Homo sapiens: one gene and its partners. The protein of the gene in region 2 purifies or fractionates together with the protein of the main gene of each other region. This does not show direct contact. Each region holds a gene or a part of one and is shown on either strand. Other genes may lie near its edges.

The links. The genes of interacting proteins can lie anywhere in the genome.
Region 1: the proteins of DYNLRB2 (region 2) and GTF2H2C purify together in Homo sapiens (affinity purification with mass spectrometry; one large-scale study listed by BioGRID and IntAct). This does not show direct contact.
Region 3: the proteins of DYNLRB2 (region 2) and DYNLT2B purify together in Homo sapiens (affinity purification with mass spectrometry; one large-scale study listed by BioGRID and IntAct). This does not show direct contact.

The regions. Positions count from the first base shown.
Region 1 is NC_000005.10:69,591,134-69,594,511, reverse strand, and holds part of GTF2H2C (general transcription factor IIH subunit 2-like protein), read right to left. Parts: intron 2,434-3,378; coding exon 2,314-2,433; coding exon of another isoform or gene 2,301-2,313; 3' UTR 1-2,300. UniProt on the Homo sapiens protein: Component of the core-TFIIH basal transcription factor involved in nucleotide excision repair (NER) of DNA and, when complexed to CAK, in RNA transcription by RNA polymerase II.
Region 2 is NC_000016.10:80,538,915-80,544,869, forward strand, and holds the start of DYNLRB2 (dynein light chain roadblock-type 2), read left to right. Parts: upstream 1-2,078; 5' UTR 2,079-2,162; coding exon 2,163-2,165; exon of another isoform or gene 2,166-2,388; coding exon of another isoform or gene 2,389-2,391; intron 2,392-4,361; coding exon 4,362-4,437; intron 4,438-5,955. UniProt on the Homo sapiens protein: Acts as one of several non-catalytic accessory components of the cytoplasmic dynein 1 complex that are thought to be involved in linking dynein to cargos and to adapter proteins that regulate dynein function.
Region 3 is NC_000003.12:196,307,185-196,311,797, reverse strand, and holds part of DYNLT2B (dynein light chain Tctex-type protein 2B), read left to right. Parts: intron 1-4,613. UniProt on the Homo sapiens protein: Acts as one of several non-catalytic accessory components of the cytoplasmic dynein 2 complex (dynein-2 complex), a motor protein complex that drives the movement of cargos along microtubules within cilia and flagella in concert with the intraflagellar transport (IFT) system.

The DNA.
Region 1 (3,378 bases), on a different chromosome or scaffold from region 2:
GACTCCTGAGAGAAACTCCCGTTACTCTGATCAGTGTGTGTGTGTGTGTGTGTGTGTGTGTGTGTGTGTGTGTGTATTAAAAATGAATATTCCTGGGCTCCCAATAAACTCTCCAGGGTGGGATTACGTTGTCTTTACTGATAATGTTCTTAACTAAAAATTCTTAGTTATAAAATCACAAATTTCGGCCGGGCACGGTGGCGGAGGTGGGTGGATGACCTGAGGTCAGGAGTTGGAGATCAGCCTGATCAACAAGGTGAAACCCCGTCTCTACCAAAAATGCAAAAATTAGCCAGGCGTGGTGGCAGGCGCCTGTAGTCCCAGCTACTCAGGAGGCTGAGACAGGAGAATGGCTTGAGCCTGGGAGGCGGAGGTTGCAGTGAGCCAACAGCAGGCCACTGCACTCCAGCCTGGGCGATGGAGCAAGACTCCATCTCAAAAAAAAAAAAAAAAAAATCACAAATTTCATAGTGAAACTCAAGTTAGAGTACCTGAAGTTTATATACATAAAATAGACATACCTTTGCTATGAAAGCCTGATTTACTCTTTTTTTTTTTTTTTTTTTTTTTTTTCTTGAGACAGAGTCTAGCTCTGTCGCCCAGGCTGGAGTGCAGTGGAGCGATCTCGGTTCACTGCAAGCTCCGCCTCCTGGGTTCACACCATTCTCCTGCCCCAGCCTTCCGAATAGCTGGGACTACAGGCGCCCGCCACCAGGCCCAGCTAATTTTTTGTATGTTTAGTAGAGACGGGGTTTCACCGTGTTAGCCAGGATGGTCTCGATCTCCTGACCTCGTGATCTGCCCGCCTCGGCCTCCCAAAGTGCTAGGATTACAGGCGTGAGCCACCGCGCCCGGCTGAAAGCCTGATTTACTCTTAACTGGATATAACCAGAAAGAGTTCTGCCCACAATGATATATCTGCATTGAATCTAAAACACAGACTTCATCATACATTCTCACCTAAATTTCTCTGATGACCCAGAGTAAGGCAAAAGGTTTAGCATATGAGAGTGAAAGGATTTGAATCTCACTTTCTGTCAAACTTTAGAGCTCTGTTAACCATGGTTAGTATCAACTATGATTTTAGGCAACTTTGCTTATAGTAAAAATAACTCGTTAATTGTTACGTATCTGGATTGGGATGCACTATAAATAAATGGAGTCTTCAAGCTTTAGGCTTTCCTGAGTGTAGTGACTCTTGAAATTGACACATCCCTTGTGGATACCTGGAAGCTGTGTTTATGGAATTGTTAAGAGATATTGGTTCCTTGATGCCTGTGGAGGATCTTATCTCCTTGCACCCAAATTGTACTAGTGGACTGCTACAAGGACTTCCACTGCTAATGAGGACTGCTTGATGCTGTGCTGGCAGGCTGTTGTTTCTGTTTAATATCCTTCTGAGTAAGCGGGTACCAAGTATGGCCATGGCAGTCTTGTGAGTTTGAATGTTTAATGTAAAGTGACTTCTGTTGGTCATAGCCACAAATAATTTCAGATGTACTAACTTGATAAACATATTCCAGATGTTTGGTTAAACCTAAAAAGACCTCTCTGGTGGATGTAGCAGTACATCATTTCATATGTATTAATTTCATAACTTTTTTTTTTTTTGAGAGGGAGTCTTACTCTAGGGTGGAGTGCAGTGGCACAATCTCGGCTCACTGCAACCTCCGCCTCCTGGGTTCAAGCGATTCTCCTGCCTCAGCCTCCCAAGTAGCTGGGACTCCAGGCGTGAACCACCATGCCCGGCTAATTATTTTTTGTATTTTTAGTAGTGACGGGGTTTCACCATGTTGGCCAGGCTGGTCTCGAACTCCTGACCTCAAGTGATCTGCCCACCTCAGCCTCCCAAAGTGTTGGGATTACAGGTGTGAGCCACAGCGCCCAGCCTAATTTCATAAGTATTGATAAATTTTCATCTTACACTGAATTTACATTCAGACTTAACTTTCTTCTTACACTAAATTAATGAATTAACATAAATCATAAAGATTCTATATTTAATTATAAAAACATAAAATTATCACATCAATTTAATTCTTATAAGTTTATACATACTGCATAATGACTTTGAAAACAGTATAACTCAAAATAATAGAAAACAAAATTAATTGAATGAAGTACTACTGAATTTCAGGTATTTCTGTGACAACACAAATTTAAAATTTAATAAAATATTACCTTTTCTTAGCAAAAAGTTTCTTAAGTCAGATTATCCTTTCATGTTTTAAATGAAGCTTCTTCTAAAGAAGTCCTTTTATTCACAGTTGCAAATTTCTTTTTAACACATACAATGTATACTACATGCTGGAATCAAACACCTGAAGGAGCTGGAATCTTATGAATACAGCCAGGGCAACAGTGTAGAGAATCATGAACAAAAACATCACAGTCCACACAGAAAACATTTTGGCACACAGCACAAACATAAACCTGTAGTGAAAAGAAGAAAAGTGATAAACTAGTTTCCAAAAGTTAATTACAGCACAGCTAGATGACATTCAAGGTGTGCTTTGCTCTTTTATATCTCTACCAATTTTTTCCCACTACCTACTTTATTACTTCCAATGTACTCTATATTCTCAAATCTAAGGCAATTAATTTTTTCCCCAAAACTATCCCTTAGAAATGAGGGAATGGTTTTGTTTTTGAGTCTTTAAAGTCTATTCTATTACAGTTCGCTCTCAATTATTTCATTCTAAGGTTTAGGAAAGACATATGAGCTTCAAACCAGCGCTACTTTTGAATGCTTAGCAAGACCACCTGATTGATTCAATTAAAAAGAGAAGCATAAAAATTTAACATCGATTTAATTATTCTTAGGGAATGACCTCACAATTGCAAACATATTTCCCTTTCAAGTAAACCTTTAAAAAAATATGTCAAATGACACAGATAAGACAAGCAGAAAGGAAAAAACTACATTTGTTCTTTCAGCATTACATATATGAGTACTTGCTCCTTGGGATAAAATTTCCAGGGCAGCTTCATACACAGATTCAAAAATCACTAAATCTCAGAAGTATTTGGCTTTGAATAAAAAAAAAAAAAAAGAATGAATAAATAAATTTCAAACAACACAGACAATGACCTATTCTTAAAAACTCAAATGAGGCCGGGTGTAGTGACTCACGCCTGTAATCCCAGCACTTTGGGAGGCCAAGGCGGGTGGATTGCTTGAGCCCAGGAGTTCAGGACCAGCTGGTCAACATGGTGAAACCCAGTCTCTACTAAAAATACAAAAATTGGCTGGGCATGGTGGTGCACGCCTATAATCCCAGCTGCTTGGGAGGCTAGGCATGAGAATCACTTGAACTTGGGAGGCAGAGGTTGCAGTGAGCCAAGATTGCATCACTGCACTACAACCTGGGTGACAGA
Region 2 (5,955 bases):
ACCTCCAAGGAATAATTAGAAGTGAAAAATTGATAAAGGGGAAATGGCTCAAGTTCTCCTCATTGATTTTCTGTGCACAGAGTCAAACTTGACTGTTGGTTGGAAGTCAGTTTGGCTACTTCTTATTTCTTTTTCAGCAGTTGGGTTCTCCCGTCAGTGCGTTTTATGCTAGAATCGTTCTTTGCTCTAATTACAGCTGTCAGCTATTGAATGAGCTTGACATCCTGACTCCAGAAACAAGGAAATTCACACTCCATGCATATGCAGTTGGTTCCTTCATTAAAGCTGATTGACATATCAGACATGGTGCACTGTCACTGATTTTTGTAAGAAAAACAAACGGCTACACAATCAAGTGGAATCTCCTTGATCAGAAACACCCAGAGAACCCAAGAATCACTCTTCATTCAACTCAGCCAGTATTTCTGTAAAGACCTATTATTTGTATTACTGCAAAATGGTAGCTATAGTCAATCAGGTAAGAGCCAGATCTGTACACACATGCATGCATACACACACAAGCACACAAATGCACACGCACACGCACACACCAGACTCAGACTCCTTCCCCACAGCTATAGCAGTCCTTTCCAAAGCAACTTTGTTGGAGTACCAGGTGTTGAGAGTCAAGCGGGATTCTTTGGCTAGTAATAGTGAACTGGCTGAGATATACAGATTTCTTGGAGGGAAAAAAAGGAGAGAACTACAGTGATCAGAATCACCCACACCTCAACAAAAATTAGAGCAGAACTACAGTTTCTCAGAGTATTTCTGTAGTTAATATAATAAAATGACAGATGTGGAGTTGAAATGGATCATCGAGTCCAAGCCTGCCAATGAGTTCAAAACTGTCCCAGAGCACCCCTAACATGGACCATTCAGAATCCAGTTGACATTCCTAGCACGATGTATGCCTTGTTCAGTGTGAGACTACTTTCTGGAAATGGATGCACAAACAGAATCGGTATTACAGGAAGTTGTTATGGCATGATCCCTATGAAGATGCATTCCCAACTTACAGCTTGTATTTTGTAATCAATATTTGTCCTCCTCTAACCTCAGGAAGTCATAACACGACTCCAGCCATAAAATTTTCCTGCTGTGCTTCGTCGTACAATAGTGGCTCTTTTCCTCCTAGGCTATAAGGATATTATCAATGTCCCTCAAAAGGTCAAGTGACTTCTGATCATTCCTAACTGATCTTTAACGTGTTTCCTCCAACAGTTCCTTAAACACCCAATGGAATGCTCTTCTATGGCAACGTATAGAACCTCCGGAACTACCATTTGCAATTTTTTAGTAACTCAGAACTGTTGATTTTTAAAATGGCAAAAATACAGATCCTAATGGATACTGACAACTAACAGAAATACTGACAAGTAGCAACTCTTCAATGGAGTTGAGAACAGGAAGAGGGTGCTATAACTAGGTGAGAACATAAAATGTGCAACTGTGCTTACTCTACTGATCTTAGAGTAGACAGATAGAAAGTAATTTTTTTAAGTACATAAGGTTGTACTATTTGATGCTCTGATATATTTTTCTTCAATATAAAAACTACTGGGAGGCGAGCGAACAGTATCTGCCCTGAACAGGGCAGTACTAATGGACGGTCACAGGCAGCTAAGACTATCACCAAACCCCTAGAGCAGCCCAACCCCGAAGTCAGATGGTCCTGTCCCCTCCTTACTTGCTCCAGGGCAAGTATCACACGTGGACATTACTGCTTCCGGTACTGTTTCGTGCATTTTGTTTGGTGCATTTTGTCCGTCTCCCTGGCACCTGGTGGGTGGTGAATCAGCAGTTTTTGAACGAATAAGTGGTTATCACATTAATTCGTGCCTCAATGAATGAATGAATGGACAAACACAGGCCGGGAGCCTGACCCACTTCCCTCTTCCCTCCCGGGACCCACTGCTCCAGGATTGGGCGAACCTCAGGTGAGCGCCTGCTCCCCTCTTCCGCGAACCTTCGCCTACGGCGGCCGGGAGGCATCAGGAGCGCGGTCAGGGCGAAAAAGCCGACTCGCGAGCGCGCAGGCGCAGCCCTGACGCTTCCGTGGGGCCACTTCCTTTTTTGTCTCCTAGCAACGGCGGGTAGCGTTGTTGACATCCCGGGAGGCTGTGCCGCCGGCCTGAGCCCAGAGTTTCGCGGCCTCCGCGATGGTAAATCTGGGGTCTCCGTCCACGCCCCGCCGTTCCAAGCACGCCGACCGTCAAGGACCTTCGCACCCAGCTTCTGGGGCCCACCCAGGCACGGGCGGTCCAGGGGCCGCGGCGGAGGCTGGTGGCTCCAGGATCTTCCTGGAGGGGCGAGAGGGAGACCTTGGAAAGGGGCAAGAAGATGTCTAGATGACTGGAAGCTGTTTTGGGAATTGATTTCGCGGGGATGGTACATAAGGAGGGGTGATGTTGAGAAAGGGAAGAGAGAGATTCAGAGGATGAAGAATGCTCAGGGGAGTGAGAAATCCGGGGAGCCAGGAAAGTTTCCAAAGAGGGGGCGGGAGGCCGAGATGGAGAGGAAAAAAAATCAGACCCTTAGAGAGAAGGAAGAGGTGGGACAGGGAAAGCAAGGGAATGGAAGGGTGAGAAGGGAAGATACTGAGAAAGAAGAAAGGGAAATAAAGAAAAAGGAAAGAAGTGATGGGAGACCCGCCCCCCTCCCCCCCAGAAAAAGAGGTAAGAAAAAAAAAAGTAGAGACTGTGGAAAGCAAAGGGCGTTAAGAGAAGAATGAAACGGGGATTGGAGATGGGGATTAAGAAATTATACTAGGAGCACTTACAAATCATGAGAAGAGAAACAACTGGGTGGAGAAATGGAAAGGCCAGGGAAAGAAAAGAAAGGAGTTTGGGAGATAAGTAAAGGGAGAAAGATAAATAAGGACACAGTGGCTGTAAGAAGCTGTGGACATCGTCTTAAAGATTGCCCAAAATGCAGTGAATTATTGATCCCCTGTTCAACGCTTACGGTTTAGTGTAGTGTTTCTCAAAGTCAGATGCAAACATTCGTTGCTACATAAGATGGCCGAGAAATGCTAAATAAGAGTGAATCACATCGTGAGAAAGTTATTCCTCTTCCATTTTGTTCAACCTTCAGACTACATACAGGAGAAAATTTCTGTTGCTATTAGGTCCTTAATACCACTGTCATTTGGAAATTTCCATTTTTTCATCCGAAGAGCAGGCCTCAGGCTCAGAGCTTTCATTGCAGTAGAATTTAATGATAGGCTCTCTCTTCATTTTGTTCATTTTGTTTGTTTTACAGTTATTTCTATTTATGAGGAATAACGTCAGGTTTCCATTTGTGGTAGTGACATACGATTTCCTCTTAAAATGCATTTATTTAAGCTTTTAGCAGTGAGATAATTTAAAGAACACCTAGATAAATAGTATACATGGCATTCATAATGGCAAGAATCATGAATCTAGTACACAAATGCCTAAAGTCAAGAAAACCTTGGCTCTGATGCTGAAATAGAGAAAATAAGTGCTCCTGCCCATACCAAGTACAAAGGAAAACTATCTTGAAGTAACAAAATGTTCACCTGTGCAATACTGAGGAAAAAAGAATATAGCAAACCCTCATCAAGAGAATTTGCAGAATTCAAAATATCCAGTGATTGCTCAGTCATGAAAAATTTGCAGGTTTGGAAAAGATCGTTCTTGTCTTTGAGTTTTCTACAGGGGAAGAAAACATACAATACACTCTACACATAAGATTCCGAATGAGTTTAAAACACAATAATAGATTCCAGAATAATCACTCATAGTTGAACATTCAGCTTGCACTGAGACGCAAGCTATAGTTATCAAGAAAATCCTAGAATCCTGGAATACTTTGTTTTTATAGACTATCCTTTAAATTTAATCATCCGAACTGATTAGGTCACATTAATGAAAATAAGATTTCTCAATAAGGACTACTTTTAGACAGAGGGAGGCCATGATATAGCTCTATAAATATTTAAAGCACTGTAATGTAGAAAAGGAATTTTCATTTGAATACAGCAGGGTCAATGAATGAAAGATAATCTGGGACAAATTTCCATGCAATGTAAAGAATACTTTTCTAGTAAATGGAAACAGATAAAAATGGAGTGAACTCCTGTGAGGCAGTAAGCTCTCTGTCTCTACAAGGGTTCAAGCCAAGAGATTCATCAGGATTGTATCCAGGAGGTCTTACGTAGGTATTTATGTGGGACTTGACAATTTCTAAGCTGTCTTTTAAAAATCTGAGATTATCACACCTGGCACCTTAGGTTAAGGAGATAGGAGAGTAGGTATCTTGCTAAACATTATTCTCCTTAGGGTTGAAGTTACCACAGGGCCCTTTTGGTTAATTATCTTCCTGGTCTCTTTCAGGCAGAGGTGGAGGAAACCTTAAAGAGGATCCAGAGTCATAAAGGGGTTATTGGAACTATGGTTGTAAATGCAGAAGGTAAATATATCACAGGCTGTCTTCTTGACACACAGAAGCCAACCAGGAACCTGTTTGCCGTGTTAGTCCTTAAGACAAACATCTTCGAATTTGACATCAAAAATATATTTATATATTTTAGCTCTGGCATTCACTTACCAAACATCTATTGAGTATCTGTTATATGCCAAACACTCTGCTAAGATCTGGGGGCATAAATATGAATAAGACATGTCTAAAAATCTCTATATACTCCTAAGAAGCACTATACATTGTTTACTTTTTAAAGCTTTGGTAATTCTCTTCCAACATTTCAGAAGTGCCAATAAAACTATCATATAGAAGATAGGGAGAATATCATTGTTGGTGGGTTGTTTGCGTTTCAACATTATGAACCATACAGAATTTCAGTGTTTATTTTAAATGGAACTTGTTCCTTGAACATATTTTATTTAAAAATCTTTGAGAATTAACGATATCATTTATAATATAGTCTTTGTGGATATAGCATAAGAAGGCCCTACATATTTCCAACTATGAAATCTGTAGACTTACCAGAAACTTGCTCTTGCTGCACGATCCTTGTTAAGAATCCACATCACATTTACTTTGGCACATTGCTCCACGCTCAGCTATGGTGGCAACCTCTTAAGAGTTCATGCTAGTTTCATTGCTAATTCAGACATTTGTAAGGGCAAGGAGTGCCAGAAATTCCAGAGCATTAGTTAAAATAAGAGTAGCTACTTTACATAATTTGTGGTGCAACCATGGAATTGGCCTATTACCAACTCAGTGCCTTGGAAAAATCCATCAGTAAATATTTATTAAGCAACTACCAACTGAAAGTCTGCTTAAATTCTGAACTACAACTCCTTACCACTAAGAATGGACAATAACCTATTTTACTGGGGGTTTTCATTGTTAAATGAGACAATAATTGTTGAGTGCTTGGCATAATACCCAATACTTGATAGTAATTAAATAGTTATGAGAATGTGAGGATTTTTAATTCATTTATACAGTTAAAACATTTGTTTTATAACCAGCAACTCAAGGCCAAATGAGTGAGAGAGATAATAGAACATAATAAATTTTCGAGCTTGAATAATCAGGGGGAAGAGAGGATTTAAGATCTGCCTTCCAGGTAAGTCACAAACTATGCGTAATATTTCCAGGAAGCATTCCAGCCCTAGTACGTGGATCTGGTTGCATTGATTTTATTTCCAGGTATTTGCATACACTCTGCCACAGCTCCGAAGATGAGCCGTCCATGTGATTTCATAGAGATGGTGTGTTAGTTTCCTTTGGCTACAGTAACAAACTACAACATGCCTGTTAACTTAAAACAACAGAAACGTATTCTCTTCCAGTTCTGGAGGTTAGAAGTTGAAATCAAGATGTCCGAAGGCTCATGCTGTCTCTGAAGACTCTGTGGGAGGACCATTCCTTACCTCTTCCTAGCTTCTGGTAGTTGTCAATCTTTAGTGTTCCTTGGCCTATAGACACATCACTCCGATCTCTGCCGCCATCATCACGTAG
Region 3 (4,613 bases), on a different chromosome or scaffold from region 2:
GGAGAATTGCTTGAACCTGGGGGGTGAAGGAGGTTGCAGTGAGCTGGGATCGTGCCAGTGCACTCCAGCCTGGGCAACAGAGCGAGACTCTGTCTCAAAATAAATAAATAAATAAATAAATAAATAAATAAATAAAATAATCCTCATCTTCACCTTTATGCTCAGTAGCTTTTCTAAAGATTCTGACTTTCTAATGAGCATTTTATAGCTTTCAATCTGCAGACTTTATTCTTTCCATATAAAGGAAATTTCCTTATATCTCTGAATATGTTTCCTATTCCATTCGTTACTTCCTTTTCTTCAGGACACCAAATATTGTTATGTTGAGCCATCTTTGTCTTCTATATTTATTAGTTTTTCTTTCCCATAATTTCTTTCTTCTTCTTTTTTTTTTTTTGAGACAGGGTCTCACTCTGTTGGCCAGGCTGGAATGCAGTGGCGCAGTCTTGGCTCACTGCAGCCTCAAGCAATCCTCCCATCTCCGCCTCCCAAGTAGCTGGGACTACAGGCGCCTGCCACCACACCCGGCTAATTTTTGTATTTTTTGTAGAGACGGGGTTTTGCCATTTTGCCCAGGCTTCTTCCTTTTTTATTGCCATTTACTTGTGATTTTCTTAAACCAGTAATTGTTTTCATTTGTGTCTTTTTTCTTGCCATTTTGAATTTATTAGTTCTGGAATGATCTTTTCTGGGTATTCTGTTTGTTCCCTAGGGCCGTGGTCTTTCTTTTCATCTCTTTATGTTGCTTAATAACCTGATTGAGGCTGGGTGCCGTGGCTCACACCTGTAATCCCAGCACTTTGGGAGGCCGAGGCGGGTGGATTGCCTGAGCTCAGGAGTTCATGACCACCCTGGGCAACATGGTGAAACCTCGTCTCTACTGAAATACAAAGAATTAGCCAGGCGTGGTGGTGCACGCCTATGGTTCCAGCTACTTGGGAGGCTGAGGCAGGAGAATCACTTGAACCCAGAAGGCGGAGGTTGCAGTGAGCCGAGATCGCCCCACTGCATTCCAGCCTGGGTGACAGAGGGAGACCCTATCTCCAAAAAAACAAAAACAAAACAAAACAGGCCAGGTGAGGTGGCTCACGCCTGTAATCCCAGAACTTTGGGAGGCAGAAGCAGGTGGATCACTTGAGGTCAGGAGTTCCAGACCAGCCTGGGCAACATGGTGAAACCGTGTCTCTACTAAAATATAAAATTTAGCCAGGTATGGTGGTGCGTGCCTGTAATCCCAGCTACTCAGAAGGCTCAGGTGGGAGAATCGCTTGAACCCAGGAGGTGGAGGTTGCAGTGAGTTGAGATCATCCCACTGCACTCCAGCCTGAGCGACAGAGCGAGATTCCCTCTCAAAAAACCAAACCAAATCAAACAAAATCATAACCTGGCCAGGTGCGGTGGCTCACGCCTGTAATCCCAGCACTTTGGGAGGCCGAGGTAGGTGGATCACCTGAGGTCAGGAGTTCGAGACCAGCCTGACCAAGATGGTGAAATCCCGTCTCTACTAAAAATGCAAAAAAAAAAAAAAATTAGCCGAGCGTGATGGCGCATGCCTATAATCCCAACTACTTGGGAGGCTGAAGCATGAGAATTGCTTGAATCTGGGAGGTGGAGGTTGCAGTGAGCCTAGATCTTGCCATTGCACTCCACCCTGGGCAGAAGAGCGAAACTCTGTCTCCAAAAAAAAAGTTAAAAAATTTGATAACCTGATTGAGTACTTATTTCATTGAGTTTATAAGCTTACATTGTTCTAGTATTGTGAATTAATTGTGAGGAATAACTCTTCGTTCCTTGATTTGTATTACTTCCTAGGTTGATTTTTTTCTTTCTTTTCTTTTCTTTTTTTTTTTGGACTGAGTTTCGGTCTTGTTGCACAAGCTGGAGTGCAATGGCGCAATCTTGGCTCACCTTAACCTCCACCTCCCAGGTTCAAGCGATTCTCCTGCTCAGCCTCCCAAGTAGCTGGGATTACAGGCGTGCACCACCACGCCCTGCTAATGTATTTTTAGTAGAGATGGGATTTCTCCATGTTGTTCAGGCTGGTCTCAAACTCCTCACCTCAAGTGATCCACCCGCCTCAGCCTCCCAAAGTGGGATTACAGGTGTGGGCCACCGTGCCCAGCCAAATTTTTTCTCTTACACAGCTCCTTCCTTCCTTCTTTCCTTCCTTCTTCCTTCCTTCCACTGGAAGTTTCTTTCTTTTCTTCAATATTTTTTGAAAAATTGTTTTGTGGACCAGGTGTGGTGGCTCACGTCCGTAATCCCAGCACTTTGGGAGGCCGAGGCAGATGGATCACCTGAGGTCAGGAGTTCGAGAACAACCTGACCAACATGGAGAAACCCCATCTCTACTAAAAATACAAAAGTAGCCAAGTGTGGTGGTTCATGCCTGTAATCCCAGCTACTCGGGAGTCTGAGGCAGGAAGATTGCTTGAACCCAGGAGGCAGAGTTTGTGGTGACCTGAGATCACGCCATTGCACTTCAGCCTGGGCAACAAGAGTGAAACTCCATCTCAAAAAAAAGAAAAAAAGAAAAATTGTTTTGTGGAGATGGTGGTCTTGTCATGCTGCCTAGGCTGGTCTTGAACTTCTGGCCTTAAGAGATCCTCCCGCCTCAGCCTCCAAAATTGCTGGGATTACAGGCGTGAGCCATGGCACCCAGCAGAAGCTTTGTTCTTCTTTGTTACTCTTTTGTTTTTGCTATTGCATCTTTGTTTATTGCCATTTGGCTGCATTTCATTTTGTTGTGCCCATACATCATAATTGCTCTGATATAATGTGGGGGATTTTTAATTGCTCTGATATGATGTGGGGGATTTTTAATTGCTCTGATATGATGTGGGGGATTTTTAATTGCTCTGATATGGTGTGGGTTTTTTTTTTAAGTTCCCCTCCCCACCATATCTGAGACTATTTTATTTTCCCCTCAGAACCGTGATTTAAGGGCTGAGTATTATTCTAGACACATTTCTGTATAATTTGGGATTGGTTAGAGAAAGGAGGAAGCTCAGCTGAGTTGTGTGCAGTGTTTTTTAAAAATAACTTGGACTCTGTCTTTACACACTCTGAATCAGGTTCATGCCCCACATGGGAGATTGCCTGTAGTCTTCAGATTGTCCCGTTTACAGTGTAATCTTGGAACCTGCACGTTCATCAGAGAGAGCTGGCTCTTTCAGCTTCGCTTATTTCACTTCTTTTGTTTTTTTAAAACTCTTTCCACTATTCCTTGGTCAAAAAAGTAGAAAGATTCAAAAATGCCCATTCCATTTTTTTCTCTTCAGACTTGGTGTTAGTGAGAATTTTCAGGATTTTGCTGCTTTAGCAACGTAGTTTCTGGAGTAAACAGCTAAATGGTGCTGGATCACCTCGTTTTGCTCTGGAATCTTCATTTTTTTTCTTGTCTGTCTTACTGAACAGCTTACAGTTTCTTGGAGATCCCATGCTCTCCTGCTGTGCACATGCCCCTCGTTCTCGGACGTGTGGGGAGATGGGGCTGACCTGGTCCCCTCTTACTCAGCCCTCAAGACTCAGTTTATTGGCCGGCCACATCTTCCAAGAAGTCTTTTCCAGTGATTTCTTGCCACTGCCCAGACAAACAGAGGAACTGCCCCCACTGGCTCTGTGTTCCTGATGTACATCATACATGCCACTCCTTGAATTATAAGCATACTCAATTTATAATTTATTTTTCTATTTTCTTTTTTTTTTTTTTTTTCGAGATGGAGTTTTGCTCTTGTTACCCAGGCTAGTGTGCAATGGTGCGATCTCAGCTCACTGCAACCTCCGCCTCCCAGGTTCAAGCAATTCTCCTGCCTCAGCCTCCCGAGTAGCTGGGGTTACAGGGATCTGCCACCATGCCTGGCTAATTTTTATATTTTTTAGTAGAGACGGGGCTTAACCATGTTGGCCAGGCTTGTCTCAAACTCCTGACCTCAGGTGATCCACTGGCCTCACCTTCTGAGAGTGCTGGGATTACAGGCGTGAGCCACCGTGCCCGGCCTATTTTTCTATTTTCCTTTGAGTTCTTTATTACTGTGAGTTCTTTAAGGCAAGAAAAACGTCTTATTTATTTCTCTATCTTGAAGGTTCAGCTCACTAGCTGACTTATAGTAGGGGAAAAAGGAAGGAAGCTAAGGTTTATTGAAGGACTAGTATTTAACAGCACTGTTTAGATGCTTTAGATATTACTATATCTGACCGGGCGCGGTGGCTCACGCCTGTAATCCCAGCACTTTGGGAGGCCAAGGTGAGTGGATCACCTGAGGTCAGGAGTTCGAGACCAGCCTGGGCAACATGGTGAAACACCTTTTCTACTAAAAATACAAAAATTAGCCAGGTGTGGTGATGCATACCTGTAGTCCCAGCTACTGAGGAGGCTGAGGTAGGAGAATCACTTGAACCCTGGAGGCAGAGGTTGCCGGTGAGCTGAGATCGTGCCACTGTACTCCAGCCTGGGCAACAGAGTGAGAATCCATCTCAAAAACAAAACAAAAAAAAGATACTACTATATCTTACCTAACCTTATAACAATCTTGGGAGGTAGGTACTGATATTCCTGTTTAATAAGGGAGACTTAAACTGAAAAGTTAAATTACTTTCTGAGGTTATACACT